Linked DNA regions of Homo sapiens: region 2 is linked to region 1. The links come from fine-mapping of genetic effects on gene expression. Tissue or cell type: pancreatic islets. Region 1 holds a variant in brackets; the other region holds the start of a gene. All regions are shown on one strand. Distances are between the middles of the regions.

Region 1 (8,105 bases):
TCTGACAATTATGTGTCTTGTGGTTGCTCTTCTTGAGGAGTATCTTTGTGGTGTTCTCTGTATTTCCTAAATTTGAATGTTGGCCTGTGTGTTCTTAAGAAGCAACAATTTATCTCCACATCCGGGCAAAAATAAGTTAGAAATTTTTAAATCAAAATTACAGTATAACTATAATTTCAAATTTTGAGGGACTACTTATGTACATGGACGGTACCAGATGCCTTGAAAATAAGGTAGACACAAAGTAGGCATTGTTTTCTCCTCTTGCAGAGACAAGGAAAGGAACTGAGGCTAAGAGAGGTGGGGAGATGTACAGAGCCAGGAAGAGCCAAGCTAGGACTGTCTTGCTGCAGACCCCGTGTTTTCTACTCATTAGGCTCCATAGCATAGCACACAAAACAAGGAGGCATTGCATCGTCATAGAGTTTCTCTTTTCTCTTGTATCCTTCAAGTTTCTTTTGATTCCCCTTACAAACTATATGGGGTATAATATTATGAGGCCAGTCTAACCGTTGCCAAGTTTGGCTAAGCTATTTGGTTCTAGAGTTGATGTGATATCTTTCTCATCCCAGCACTTAACTGACTTACATAATAAAGCCTGCACTATGGATGGGCCTCTGGGTGCTGTGGCCTCATGAAAAATATTCCCTGGGCCTGCAATTTCAAGCTAGGTGGGGCAGCCCCTCACGACATCTTCACACAGATACTGCTGTACTTTCTGCTCATTTCATATAGATCTTGAAGTAATTCACTCCTCTGCTTACTCAAAACCTGTCCCCTTTAAAAAAGATAGGTCCTTCTAGAAATCAACCTATAACCTAAGTTCTATCATTGTTTTCAGGTAAAGAATAGAAATTAAAGAGATAAAGACTATCTGCAACATATTCATTGGGGAACAGATGTCACAGATCAGATGTCTCTCTATTATCTTCCTCCTCAAGAGGGGTTTGGTCATAAAGAATATCAAGACCAGGAAAAGGGGACACAGGTGACCATGCACACAGTGAGGCTGATTATGTGCATAGAAACCAAGAGCCTTATGTTCCAGAGGGCAGTGCCAGCTCCTTTTCTGCTGCTGCCTCCTGGAGCTCCTGTCTGTCCTCTGAGCTCCTGCAGAAGCCTTCCTCTATCGCCACTGCCAAACCACCAACCCCAGACTGGGGCAGTACATTTGCTTTTGATACCCTGGAGTGTAGGAGGACCACTTAGACTTGGCATTGTAAGCCCCATGGTTGTGTGGCCCTAAACAAGTCATGGTGATGACAACACCAGCCCTGCTCCTAGTTCACCACCTTCTGCTTCCACACTGGTGAGTCCTATCATTCACTCTACTCCCCTGACAGCGGCCAGACCTCCTAGCGTCCAATCAGTTCATCTTTCCATTTCTTCCCAGTCACACCTGGGAATCATGCCTCCACTCAAAGCCTTGCTGCTCCAAAATCTAAGACTTTAAAATCTACTCCCCACTCCAAAGATAACTGCCCTACCTCCCCCCTCCCACCACTTCATTCATATTGAACCTGAACCTGGATGCCAGGCTTCTCTGTTCACGAGCCTGAGATCAAACGCCTCAAGCAATCTGTGTAAAAACATGTTCAAAATAGTTTTCTTTACCTTGTGCCTTGTTGAGAGTTTGCACTATGTCTTTCCACCCTCCCTGCTCCCATCTGGGTTCCCTCACCTGTCAATTACTCTATTCTATGTGCCTGATGCTTCTCGTACCACTCCCAAAGCTGAGTCATTCAGTCTAATTGGATTAGGCTTTCAATAACACCAGCCAATCCTCGTATTTATCTCTAGTCAATAGGCTCTCCTATTCCCTACAATCATTGTTCTAAATCTTTTATATTCTTTCCAAGTTTCAAACCACAGCCACTTCCTCTTATTCTTTTTATATATGTTAAATACTAATCTTTTGTTGGTTGTGTTACAGATACATTTTCTCAGTTTGGGGCTTGTTTTTTCACTTTTTTTGATGTACTTTGATAAATAGAAATTCTCAAATTTAATGTACAGTCAGGCATTACTTAACAATGGGGATATATCCTGAGAAATGTGTCATTAGGCTATTTCATTGTTGTGTGAACATCATAGTGTATTTCTTTTCTTTTTTTTGAGACAGAGTCTTGCTCTGTCGCCCAGGATGGAGTGCAGTGGTGTGATGTCGGCTCACTGCAACCTCCACCTCCCAAGTTCAAGCAATTCTCCTGCCTCAGCCTCCCAAGTAGCTTTTGGGAGTGCCAACCACCACACTCAGCTAATTTTTGTACTTTTAGTAGAGATGGGGTTTCACCATGTTGGCCAGGCTGGTCTTGAACTCCTGACCTCAGGTGATCTGCCCACCTCGGCCTGCCAAAGTGCTGAGAGTACAGGCATGAGCCACCACTCCCAGCCCATAGAGTGTAATTCTAAAAACCTAGACAACATAGCCTACTACACACCTAGGTTCTATGGTATAGCCTATTTGTCCCTAGGCTACAAATTTGAATGGCATATTACAGTTCTGAATACTGTAGGCAACTGTAACACAATGTTAGGTATTTGTGTATCTAAACATATCTAAAGATAAAAAGATACAATAAAAATACAATATTATAATCTCATGGCACCACTGTCACATACACAATACATCATTGACTGAAACGTCATTATGCAGCCTATGACTGCAGCTAAATGTATCAGCCTTTTTTATGTTTTGTGCTTTTTGCCTCATGTTTAATAAACTCTTCTTTACCAAAATATCAAAAAGATATTCTTCTATATATTCTACTAAAATGTGTCTAGTTTCACCTTCAACATTAAACCTGTAACCCATCCATAACTGATTTTTTTTGTGTATGATATGAAGTGGAGATCCATGTAGATGACTAGCTGACCTTGCGTCATTTATTTAATGGTCCATCCTTATGTCGCATAATGCCAGCTCTTTCATAAAGCAGGTTTCCACCTATACATGAGCCTTTCTGGCTTCCCTACTTGTCTAGTCCTTCCCTGGTGCCCTATTTTTCTAATCAGTGTAACTTTATAATAAGCCCTGATGTATGATAGGGCAAGTCACACTCCTTGTGACACTTCTCCAGAGTTGCCAACTATTTTAGCCCTTTGCTCTTATAGATAAATTTTAAACTCAGCCTTTCAGGTTGCATGTACATGTGTATGCGCGCGCGCGCGCACACACACACACACACACACACACACACACACACACACACACACA[C/TAC]ACACTGTTGAGATGTGGATTGAAACTGCATTGAAATTAAAGATTCATTCTCCTCATGCTCAACAGAAGACTCCTCCTTAAAGGAAATCAAAGGTCATAAATGTAAGCTCCTCTACTTTCTTCTCCTTTATCCCAGTGTGACTATATCTTGAGCCATGCCTTTTTTTTCTATGTAGTATCAGAGGAAGTAGTGCCCCTCTTCTTCTCTACAGTCATTCTCTAAACAGGCAACACATCCCATCACTTTGCATTTCCTCCATAATTTTTTCTCTAGAAAATGTACATTTCTTGAACAGTAACTCTATTACTCCCTCTGCATTGGGTTCTACTTCTGTCTTTTCTACCTTCCTAAAATTTCAATGACATTGTACTTTTCTGCTAGTCCTCCAACTTTTCTGTTTCTCCTCCTCTTTTCCTTACGTTTCTCATTACTTTCATCCATAATGTGGACATTACCTGAAACTTCTTTTTTCTCAGTCCTTTTGTTCTTTGTGTCATTTTTTGAAGAAGTAATTTTAAGTCTCCTATCATGGGAGATTGTGTCAATTTCTCTTTAAAATTCTGTCAAATTTTTGCTTTATGTATTTTGAGATGATGTTGTTAGGCTTATAAGTTTTTAGACTAGCTATATTTCCTGGTGAAATATTTTTCTATCATTATTCAGAGACTTTGTTTATTCCTGACAATGCTTTGTCTTGCATTTCATTTCATCTGATATTAATCCACTTACATCAACTTCTTTTAGTTCGTACTTTCCCAATATAGGACATTTTCATGCTTTTTCTCCTTTTATTTTCAGCTTTTCTGCACCCTATATGTTAGATGAGTTTCTTAAAAATTATATATAGCTTTTGTTTTTAACGTCATATTAGATGCTCTATTTTTAGTGGTAAATTAGTCTAATTGCATGTATTCTGTGCTAATTACCCTGAATACATTTTAAATTTCATTCATTTATTCAGTAAGATAGTCTCAATTGCTAAGTCTCATTTAGGTATTTCCTTATAAGACCTTTTTTTTTTTTCTTGGTAATATCATACATCTCCTGTTGGCTTCACCAACAACCTCATTGGAGATTATTCACAAAACTATTTCTGGCCTTAACCTTGCTCTCTCAATCTCTCCAACCATACTTACAGCTTGCGCTTGGATGTCTCACCTGGTTGTCTCGTCATTACTTCAAGTTCTACATGTCCAGAAACAAAATCAGCCTATCCAACATCCTCCAGTGCTTCCCAGCCCTACATCTCCACAATGTTTCCCCTTCCAATTCTCGTTTCATTTTCTCAGTCTTGAAAGCTTCAGTTCCCCTATCCTCATTGCCACCGCCACCAGCCAATTGTGGCCAAGTTATTCTGAGTTTCTTTCGGCAGTGTCTCTCACATCTGCCTGCTCTACTTCGATTCCAGTGCCATCATCCTCATTCTGAGCCTCAGTTTTCTTCACCAGGGCCATTACTCTGTGTTCCTACCTAGTCCCAGAAAGGAAACCTTGTTGTCTGTCCTCCAAGCTATTCCAAACACTCCTCCAGGCTTGATGCTTGAGGCCCAGGCCTGACTTGTTAACTTATTTGCTCAGATAGTTTCAAGGACTTGCTTTTGCTACTAACAAGTGTCCAAACTATTTAATGTGGCTTTGAGGCCCTCCACAGTCTGAATGCAGTCTGGATGAATCCCCACACTTCAATTACTTCTTTTTACCACCCTGTTTCCCAGCCTATAATTTAGGCTTTCCAAACTCCCATACTTTCTTTCATCTGGGAAAAGATTCTCTTCTGCTGCCATTTCCACTTCCATGATCACATGAAACTGCGAGCATCCAGCTATGACATCTCACAACTGCTTACTCTGATTTTCAACAGAAAAATGCATAGTACAATCTTACAGTACAGCCTAGTAGCCTATGTCTAAGCTGCGTGTTGGTGAAAGCTGTTATATATCGTTGCTTCTGTAGGGACCCTGACACTATTTATGATGTGCGTAACCTCTGCTAGAATTAGTTGGTTATCACAACCCAGATTAAATAGTAATTATTTTAAATGAGATACATGCAGTGACTGTCAAGAAAGAGAAAGGAAGAGAGATTTCAATAATTAGCCATTGAATCTACATCTGGGTCAAATGGACTTTATCCATTATGCTTCTCTTACCAAATGAAATATTCATATGCCAGACTTCTTTTTCCATAAAGGTGAAATGTTAGCTCATATTTAATTATGTTAGAAGATAAAAATTAAATAAAGCACGAATAACTTTATACCAATTTGTTGCCTTCTCCAGGATGACTTCATTTTAGTACTACTTGTTTATGAAATATAGGAAATAATCTGACTTTTATTCTTCTTATCTCAGAACCTAGAGCACATTTCAGTTTTCTGACTTTATTACTACACAGTTTTTGGTAAATTGCTTTAACAATTTTAATAAGCAGGATGTTATTTACTATTTCTTAACTCTGCCCTATAGTTTCCAAAATAAGATAGTTGTCCAATGGCTTATTTTGGATTTGTGCTAGTTATTGAGTATTTATTGGTGCACTCATGGCCTGAATGTAAAAAGAAAAAAAATAGCTTTCTAATCATAATTTAAGTGGTAAAATTACTTTAACGTCTTAATTCCTAGACTATATCTTGGGGGTTTTTGTAATGTACCTCGCAGACTTTATAGTATGGTAACATGGACTTCCTACTTCCCTACAGCTGGTTCTCATTTGCAATAATGATTCTAAAATCAAGAAGCAAACATTGCATACTAGAGTACTAAGTCTGTTTATTCAGTACATCAATTCAGGATACACAAGAATGAAAATAAACCAACTTTTGTCTGGACACAGTGGCTCATGCCCATAGTCCCAGGACATTGGGACTGTATATTAGTAATGGGAGGCTGAGAAGTGTGGATCACTTGAGCCCAGGAGTTTGAGACCAGCCTAGGCAACATAGCAAAACCCTATCTCCACAAAAAAAATACAGAAATGAACTGGTTGTGTTGGCATGCAACCGGAGTTCTAGCTAAATCTCTTAAGCCTGGGAGTTTGGGGCTGCAGTGAGCTGAGATCACACCACTGCACTCCAGCCCAGGGGACAGAGCAAGACCCTGTCTCAAAAAAATAAAAAACAAAATAAACTAATTTTTTCTTAACCCTCGTCAGTCAAGAAGTCTCCAGGGACCATTGTTTTAGTCTGTTCAGGCTGCTATAATGAAATACCATAATCTAGGTAGTTTATAAACAACAGAGATTTATTGTTCACAGTTCTGGAGGCTGGACAGTCCAAGATCAAGACTCTGGCAGATTCAGTATCTGGTTAGGGCCCACTTTCTCGTAAATGGTACATTCTTGCTGCATCTTCATGTGGTGGAGGGGGCAAGCAAGCTTCCTCAGGCCTTTTTCGTAAGGGCACTAATCCCATTCATCAGGGCAAAGACCTCAGGACCTAATCACTTCTCAAAGGCCCCACCTCCTAATACTATCATCTTGGTGATTAAGAGTCAATATGAATTTGAAGGAGACACAAATATTCAAATCCTAGCAATCACATATCCACCAGTTGACATGGAGAAGAAGTACTTTGAGGAGAGTTAGAAGAGACTTGGCATCTACCTTTATTTAGAACATAATAGACATACAACATGAGAAGCTAAACTTAAGGGCTAGGTCACTGTTGTACCCTGGCAGCTATGGCTCTAATACCTCATTAACACCACATTCTCTCTTGGGCAGGGCAGCATAAGGCAAGCAAAAGCCAAGGACTTACAAATTGTGCTAATGGAATAAATGGAAGCAAAGATATTAGGCCATAACTTTTGCAACCTTTTTAGTAAATTTTCTATAGCATTTGAGGCTATCAACTTCCTCTTTCTTCTTAAAGTTACTTTCCTGTGAATTTCATGTTAGACTCTCAATTTTCTGTTTCTTTAACACTTCTGTTACCATTTGTTTTCTTTTTCCATTGTTAGATCCTCTTCTTCCTCACCACTCTAAAAATAAATGTTTAACTATGATCAATTATTGGCTCTTTTCCCTTTCATTCACTATTGTGACTTCAATTACCATTTTAATCAAGATAATTCCCAAATGCACAAATATCTAGCCTTGCTTTCCCCTGGCTCCTGCATTTCCAAGTTCCACTCTCACTCATACCCTCATTCTTCCTTGCCTAGACTATTGCTATTCCCTATGAACTTGGTCGCCTAGTCCAATATCCCCCTAACAATGCATCCTACACACTGCAGGGGTTGGCAAACTTTTCTGTAAAGTGGCAGATAGTAAGTATTTCAAGTTTTGCATACCAGATACAGTCTCTGTCACATACTGTTCTTTGTTTGCTTTCTTGTTTTTGAACAACCCTTTAAAATGTAAAAATCATTCTCAGGTTACTGGTCACAGAAAAACAGACCATAAAACAAATTTGACCCACAGGCAGTGGTTTGCTGGCCCCTTGCCATAGAAATGCCTGATAGCCCTTGTTGAAGCACAGAACCAATCATATCACTCTTTTGAACGTAAAGTAGAATGTTTTGCCTGCAGTTTCAGTCCAAAATTCCATTGCTTCTTTATGGATTCATCACACTAACCAAACAGATCTCCTTACAGTCATTTTTAAATTTTCTATTTCCCTGATATTGTTCAAGCTTAGAGCACTCTCTTTAGTCATATTCAATTACCAAACCCGTGCACATGTCTGCATTTGCATGTGTACACACACACACACACCTGGAATCCATTTGCCTCCTTTATTTGTAACTTTCTTGTGCTTGTCATTTATACTTTATTTATGTATATCTCTAACTTCCCATGCAAGCTCTTAAGAGCAGAATCTGTCTGATTCATTATTCTATGTTTCTCTTGTACTCACTTTTGCCTAGTTGTGCTTAATATCATAGCATAT
Region 2 (8,105 bases), 490 kb after region 1:
GATATTACAAATAGGGACAGTTGCCAAAAACAAAGCCTCTGCAATTTTTTTTTTTTTGGCGGGGGTAGGCGGGGGATTTTTCTTGCCTTTAGCTACCCAGATCAAGTGTCTGCACTGTTTAAAATCAATCTTCTGATTCTACGATGTATTTATTGGGAATTCCCTTATCATGAGTTTCCTTTCCTCTGAGCTCCCTCTGAAAGAGCTATTGGTAAAGACCCACCCTCTTATCATTCCATATACTTCACGAGGTATCTCATGTATTCTCTATGGCCTCAATGATTCCTTTTTTTCTCCAAGTCTTTGCATACTATCTACATGCTGAAAGCAGTCCAGATGACCTCTATATGCAATGGTCACCTCAATAACGCTATTTGAATGTCCCATAACAGTCATCTTAAACTTAACACATTTAAAACGAAATCCACCATCTTTCCCATCCAAAACCACTCTTGTGGTCTCTTAGTGAATGGTATTATCATTCATGCCATTGACCAAATCAGAAACCTAGGCATTAGTTTTGCATCCTCTTTGGTTCTTTCATCTCTTTTGACTCCACCCAAACCACCACTCCATCATCCAATCAATCACCAAGTGATGCTGGTAGAATTGTAAATCTGATGTCACTTGTTAAAAAAGAAAAATTAAGGAAAAACCCATCACAGCCGAGTTTCATCTTTTTCTACTTTTTATCTCCTTTCCCTATTCTCTCCTTAGACCTCTAAATTCTACCTATAATGTACTTCTTTCAGTTTTGTGACTATAATTCCTTATTGCTCTGAAGTATTTGCACATGTTATTCCTTCAGCCTCCAAGTGTCTTCCTCCACTCCCAACTCCATTTGACTTGGTTCACTCACTACTCTCTTCCAGGCCATTTACATTCTCTAACTACCCATCTTATTTCCTTGCTAATTCTCTAAGCGCATCTTTCTCTACCTCATGCCTAAAACTCAAAATCCCCTCATTAAAATAAACAGCATCTCACCAACCTCTGCACTTCCAGCTACCTTCTCTTTCTTCTCTTTGCATCCGGCCTGCAAAGTTTTCTGCTTCCACTGCTTCATTAAAAGGTCAAAGATTTCCCAATTGCTAAATGCAGTGGGCTCTTTTCAGTCCCGCTATCTGACTTCAATGTAGCAGGTGATATTTTTGAAACATTCTTTTTCCTTGGCTTCTTTGATAATTGTCTCCCACTGTTTTCATCTTACCTCCCTGAATAGTTCCTTCTGACTTTGAGTCCTTCTTCAGTTCACCCTTAATGTAGGCATTCTCCCAAGACTCTGTACATGGTCTTCTAGTTCTTCAATTCATAATTCCTATTGGGCAATCATAACCAGTTCTGCAACTTCATCAATCACCTGTATGCATGACTCCCAAAACTCTCATCTGTTCATATTTTCCTCTAAGCTCCAGACTCCTACATTCTGCCTATAGAACATCTCTCTTAGATGCCACAAAGGAAACTTTAAGTCACAGGATCTAAGAGGCATTTATTATTCTCCTCAAACTGCTCCCTCTTCTGAATAGCACCTGATCAATTAGCTAAGGCTCTTACACTTGGGAAAAATGCTGCATTCCTCCCTTTCCCCCATGCCTCACAACTATTCTGTAGCTGGATCCTGTCAAATCTCATTCCTTCACACTCTGATCATCTCTTGCCTTCGTATTGTCTTTTTGCTTCCAATCTTGCACCCTTTCTAAATCATCCTCTACAGTGCTTCCAGAATAACACAGAACACACGTCATTCCCTGTTGAAAACACACCGTGGCTGCCTACAGGATGATGTCGGAACTTCTTAGCATAGTAAACATACAGGCCCCTGAATGGTTGCTTACCCTTTGTCCAAATACTCATTCACATCCTATATTCTTGCCTTACTAAAATACTTGACGCTTTCTAAATATACCAAACTATTTCAGACAGTTCCTTCTGTCTTCAATGCTCTTCACTTCTTGCAAGACTTTCCTATCTTCTTAGGCGGGTGCAGTGGCTCATGTCTGTAATCCCAGCACTTTGGGAGGCCGAGGTGAGTTTCTTGAGCCCAGAAGTTCGAAACTAGCCTGGGCAACATGGTGAAACCCCATCTCTACAAAAAAATTTTAAAACATTAGCCAGGTATGGTACGCGCCTATAGTCCGAGCTACTTGAAAGGCTGAGGTAGGAGGATCACTTGAGAAGGGGAGGTCCAGGCTTCACGGAGCCCTGATCATGCCACTGAGCTCCAGCGTGGGCAACAGAGCAAGACCAAAGACTTTCATATCTTCTTTACAAAGCCCTTTCTCATACTCGTAGACAAAACTAACCACTTCATCCTTTGTGAAGGATCCTGATATATGTTGTTATGGTATCTAACTCATTTGATTACATTTATCTTTCCTGATCTGGATTCAAATAGCAATGCAACTATGTAACAGCTGCGTAAAACTGGGCAAAATAACCTACTGAGCTTCTTTCAGCAATGGAAATTATCAAGATAGAGTTGTTATGAAGAAAGAATGAGTGCACTATGTACCTGGCACACAATAGGTGCTTGAAAAAAAAAGGTAGTATTGTTATTACAATTCTGTTATCCTTATGCCACTATGTGCAAGCTTTAAAAAGACTTCCGGCCGGACATGGTGGCTCACGCCTGTAATCCCAGCACTACGGGAGGCCGAGGCGGGCAGATCACCTGAGGTCAAAAGTTCCAGATCAGCCTGGTCAACACGGTGAAACCGCGAGTCTACTAAAATACAAAAAAAAATAGCTGGGCGTGGTGGCGGCTGGCTGTAATCCCAGCTACGCGGGAGGCTGAGGCAGGAGAATTGATTGAAACTGGGAGGCGGAGGTTGCAGTGAGCCGAGATTGCGCCACTACCTTCCAGCCCGGACGACAGTATGACACTCCGTCTCAAAAACAAAAACTAGCCGGGCGTGGTGGCGCGCGCCTGTAGTCCCAGCTACTCGGGAGGCTGACCCAGAAGAATCGCTTGAAACCGAGAGGCGGAAGTTGCAGTGGGCCGAGATCGCGGCACAGCACTCCATCCAGCGTGGGCTACAGGAGCGCAACTCCGTCTCAAAAAAAAAGAGGAAAAAAAAAAAAAAAAAGACCTGGAACAAATGAACTGGAAGGTGCTAGGCAAATACATGATATATTTAAAACTTACTAAATTCTAAAGCGGTAACTAGTTGTCTGAAGGGGAGAGGGAGGAACCAGGGAAGAAAACTGGGTTTAGTGGGGTCAAGGGTTTGTAGGGAGGTCCAACAATTGCCAGTAAGTGTTTAATTTTTTTGTACCTGTAACCTCCATTCCCGAACAACCTTTACCGTCTTATCTACTCCTCTCTGGCAAATGCCTACCCTAAGAATCCGCCACAGCATCACTATCACGCCGAATTAACTGTTGCCTCCTCTTAAGTTCCCGGGGACAATACTTCTGTGAATTCCAGACCAGGGCCGCTATGGATCGCGACTCCCAGCGGGCAGAGACCTACTCCCTCCTACAACCACTACCTGCTACATGACACCTTTGGAAAACCTTGGCTGACTAAATTTAAAAACCACATCACCCAAGGCACACATCTCCTACATCATACACGTCAATCTCCACAGCCTACGTAGGAAAATCCTCAAGGGAACCCCGGCACGAATTCAAGGCCAGACCCACAAGCCAGGTACACACCCACACGCCCACGCCCGCGCGCTGCCGGAGCCCCGGGGCCTGCTGGCCAGCACACCTCCACACCCGCGGCGCGGCCTCCGGGCAACTTACAGGAAGTTCTCCATCGAGATGCGGACGATAGAGCCTTCCACGAAAGGCCCGGACGACTGCAACAGCGGCAGCTGCGGGGCCGAATTCTTCCTCTTGCTCGGGACCTCCGACGAAGGGTCTCTCGGGAGAGCTCTCTTGGAAGGCTGGGGGCTTGGAGTTGACGTCTTCTTGCTCGGAGTCGCCATCCTGGCTTCCTCAGCGTCCCACAGCGACTTCCGTTCCCACCGTCCGGCAGCCCAGGCGCCCAAGCGCCCATCCACCCAGGCGCCCCGCTCCCGCGCGAACTGCCGCGAACTGTTACCGCGCGCTCGCTCCCGCGATCTCGCGCCGCGCCTGCGCAGTTCAGGTCCGGCGACGTCAGCAGGCCCGCCCCGCCCCTCCCGCGCTCCGCCGCGCTGTGCGAGGCCCAGACTGAGGGCGAAACAGCAGGCAGGACTGGGTGGAGACGTTCGGGGACGTGGCAACTGGAGTTTCTTCTCCGTATATTTCGGCATTCAGTTCCTTTTTTTTTTTGTTTTAACTCAGGAAAAAATCTCAATTGCGTTTAGTATTTTGAAAGCCACTTTATTGCTTCCCGAGCCTCAGTCATGTGTGGTGGGAGGCTGCTGTGGGTGGCACCTGGGGCGTCCACGGCCGCCAAGGCGGGAGGACGTCAGGCCCTGCTTGCTCCCACCCCTTCCAGGTGAGAGCTCCCGGGCACGCCCGTCGTTGGCTCTTCGTCCTCTTGGTGTTCTTCCCTGTTGCTTCAAATCAGGTTCCTGTCTCAAAAATCCGAAAAAGAAATCCTCCCAAATGACTCTGTGCCCGACGCTCCGTTAAGGCATCGTGCTAGGCGTTCTCAAACTCGTGAAATGACTACACTGCACAGGTTAACCTCATTGCTACTCTTCCCCTTGCCTCCTAATTCTCTGGTTAAACTTCCGCCCCCGAGGTTTCTAGAAATCCCTGAGCTGGAATGCGCTGCCTTCATTAAGAGGGTGTTCTGCTTCCGTCTGCTCACATTCATCTAGTAAGCCCTCTCGTTAAAGAGGAGGCAGCACACCGAGGCCTGTCTAGAACTTCTTTCATTTAACCAACAGTGAATATCTAATCTACAAGAAACTGGAGCCGTGGCAGTTTAGGAGCCTGCCAAGGTTGCATCCCTGGGAGCTTATTTTCTATTGTGGGAGACAGGAAAAGAACAAGTGAATCAACTGTGAAATTAAATAATTCAAACTTAAAGCTGTTGGAACTTTAAATTATTCTGAGCCTTGCGAAGAATGTGGCGATGGGGCCTGAGTCCCATGGCATACAGCTGCAATGTCTGCCTTGTTTTTTCCTATAATCAGGAAGACCAAACAGAGACAGAGGTAAGACCCCCTCAGATCACTACCCCCTTCATAAATTAATATAGTTATCTTCCTTGGAATGTAGCTATCTATAACTAATCTAATCGCTGTAATTTATGCACTGCTCTTGTATTGAAAATGTACTCCTGCTGAACCTTCTCTGTTTCTGCCTGTGTAAATGAAACCTTAACTTCACTTTGGAACATTGACCCTATTTGTTTGGAGTTGGTGTTTCCAGGTGGCTGTCCTCAAGCTTTGCGTTAGAATAAACTCTATACTTAATGATATTTTCTGAATTTCACTACTTAAGGCTGACACAACAAATGATTAGCATAATGTCAGACTGTGACAGGTGTTAGGAAGAAAACAAAATGAACCTGATGGGTGGGAGGTACGGAAGGCCTCTTAGAGAGGTGGTGGTGTTTAAGATAAACTCTGAAGGACGAGAAGAAACTGTGACGATCTGAGAAAAGAGCACCCCAGGCAAAAGAATTTTGCTGGAACATACCAGTAAGGACAAAAGCTCTGAGGTGGGAAGGCCAGTGTTGCTGCAGAGCAGTGAACAAGGTTGCAGAGCAGAACCTTGTCCATCGTGGAAAAGCCTGAATTTTATTTTTAAAGCAATGGGAAGCCATTGCAAAGTTTTAAGCAGGAGAGGGCCATGTTCTGACTAAAGCTTTTAATTTTTTTATTTGATTTTTTTTATTTGATTTTTTTGAGACAGAGTCTCACCCAGTCGCCCAGGCTGGAGTGCAGTAGTGCCACCTCAGTTCACTGCAAACTCTGCCTCCCTCGTTCAAGCGGTTCTTCTGCCTCAGCCTCCCGAGTAGCTGGGATTACAGGTGCATGCCACCACACCTGGCTAATTTTTGTATTTTTAGTAGAGACGAGGTTTCACCATTTTGGCCAGGCTGGTCTGTAACTCCTGACCTCAAGTGATCCGCCCACCTCGGTGTCCCGAAGTGCTGGCACTACAGGCATGAGCCACTGTGCCTGGCCTTAAAGTTTTTAAATAATAATTCTGGTTGCTGTGTGGAAAATGGATTAGAGGGCACCAAGTGTGGAAGTGGAAGGCCACTTAGAAAGCTATTGCAGTAGATCCCTGATTCCTGACTCCTAGACCAAAGCTCCTTTCCCAGGTCTCTGCTGCTTCCTCTCACACAAGGACTCCGCTCCAGAGAAAATAGAGTAAGTAAAAAGCATGTGAACTTGTCGTAGTTACTGGAAATTTTCTTAAATGCAAATGAAAATGAGAGAGACGGGAAGGAAAAATCATTGAAAAAATTCAGACTGCAGCAGCAGCCTACCTGAAAAGTCACAGCAACAGGCAAAAAATAAAACAACCTTGGGAAAACCTCAGGTTGCACCTGGACAGATAGACAGCTTTAAGCACAGATAAACAAGCACAGGAGTGGGAGAGTCTCGACTTCATACTCATACAATGGGCCCCAGTAAAAACTGTGAGACTTAATAAGTACATTCCTTTCCGTTTAGGCCCACTAAGATACGGAAGCGAGAAGCTTATACAGGGAGGGTTGGGGGATGCCTGCAGCTGCAAGAAAATGTCTGGGAACAGACACAGAAACTTAAGCGACACAAAGCAGCACAGAGCAGCATAAACTAAAAGCCTGCTTATGTGATCAAGGAATTGGGTAAAGGCTGTTAGGAACTCTGCTCTATGCCGATAGCACACCTGGTCCCAACTAAATCTTCAGGCCCTGGGAAGATAAGACACCCCTCCTCACTAGTCCATTTATAAAAACCCTGACGTTTTTACTACAACTTGGCAGTCCAGTCAGACTCCCCTCTCTAATGCAGAGAGCTTCTTTTCTTTCTTTCACTTATTAAACTTTTGCTCCAACCCCACCTTTGTGTCCACGTTCCTTAATTTTCTTGGACGTGAGGACAAAGAACCCAGGGTACTAGTTCAGACAATGAGAAACTGCTACGTTAAGGTGCGTTGGTGAGACTGCAACAAAAATAAAGAATAATTTTTAAACTGTTCAAATGGCGGTGAGTAACGAAAAAACTCAGTGCTCAGGAGGGCACAATACTGTCCTTCCCTGAGTTGCTAGCATGAATTTTTTGAAAAGTAAAGGCTCTGCTTCAAGAGCTGTAGAAAAGTCAGATTGTTTGATGAAGTTACTACATTTAGGGGAATCTACCCTGATGAACAAATAAGAATTATAGACATTAGTAATGGGAGCTGAGGGCAGGGAGCTAGTCATCATTTTTGTACAATGATCAGTCCTTTTTTTTCTTCCCTTTTTTGGCAATCAATAGCAACATTTATTTCCTAGATCCCCCAGGAGAGGGGTAAGGAGCCAAGAAACCCCACATTATAAGACTTGGAGCCTCTGAAGTAGCTGTGTGAATAGCATGATTAAATAATTTCAGATTTTCTGTGTCTTCTTGAGTCAGTTTTAATAGGTTGTGCTTTTCAAGTAATTTGTCCTTTTCATCTAAGTTGTCAAACTTATTACATGAAGTTATGTGTTAATATCCATTAACGTTTGCAGCATCTATAGTGATGCTTCCTCTTTCTCACTTGATACTGGTAAATTGTTCATTTCTTCCTCTCATTTATTAATCTAGTAGAGGTTACGTATGTTTTATTAATCTTTTTAAAGGAACAACTTGATTTTTGCTTTTGTTGACTTTTGATTTCATAATTTCTACTTATCTTCGTAATTAACTTTCTGTTAAAGTTTAATTTGTTCTTTCCCCTCCAGCTTTTTAAAATTTGTTCTTTCCTCCTCAGCTTTTTAAAAATTATTTTTTGAATATATATATATTTGTACATATTAATGGGGTACATGTGCAATTTTGTTACATGCGTATGATATGTAATGATTAAGTTAGGGTATTTATAATGTCTATGTGATGGGTCCCTTTCAAGTCTTCCAGCTATTTTGAAAAATACAATAGATAATTGTTAACTATAGTCACTCTACTGTGCTATCAAACATTAGAATGTATTCCTTCTATGTGATTAGTCTTTAGTGAACTAATCAAATTGTGTTT

Which allele goes with the higher level. Positions count from the first base shown, and alleles are read on the strand shown. Sizes are in standard deviations (SD) of each study's normalised expression.
For the expression in pancreatic islets of the gene that starts at base 4,039 in region 2, TAC is the high allele of the variant in region 1 and C is the other (moderate effect, 0.42 SD a copy in PISA).

The links. PIP is the estimated chance that this variant, and not a neighbour inherited with it, causes the effect.
Region 2: it holds the start of SMC5, and the variant in region 1 is fine-mapped to the expression of SMC5 in pancreatic islets (PISA, PIP 0.95).

The regions. Positions count from the first base shown.
Region 1 is chr9:70,747,117-70,755,221 of GRCh38, reverse strand. All of the region lies in intron 8 of TRPM3 (transient receptor potential cation channel subfamily M member 3), which reads left to right. Among named protein-coding and RNA genes, the nearest start is that of MIR204, 59 kb to the left of the region's middle. The variant C/TAC (reference allele first, on the strand shown) is at 3,218.
Region 2 is chr9:70,254,912-70,263,016 of GRCh38, reverse strand. SMC5 (structural maintenance of chromosomes 5) reads right to left here and starts at 4,039. Exons shown (of 25, transcript NM_015110.4): 1 at 3,754-4,039. The coding sequence starts at 3,938. It overlaps SMC5-DT (SMC5 divergent transcript), which reads left to right and starts at 4,143. Exons shown (of 4, transcript NR_039990.1): 1 at 4,143-4,621; 2 at 5,082-5,102. RefSeq lists enhancers at 3,753-3,952, 4,283-4,472 and a silencer at 3,993-4,212.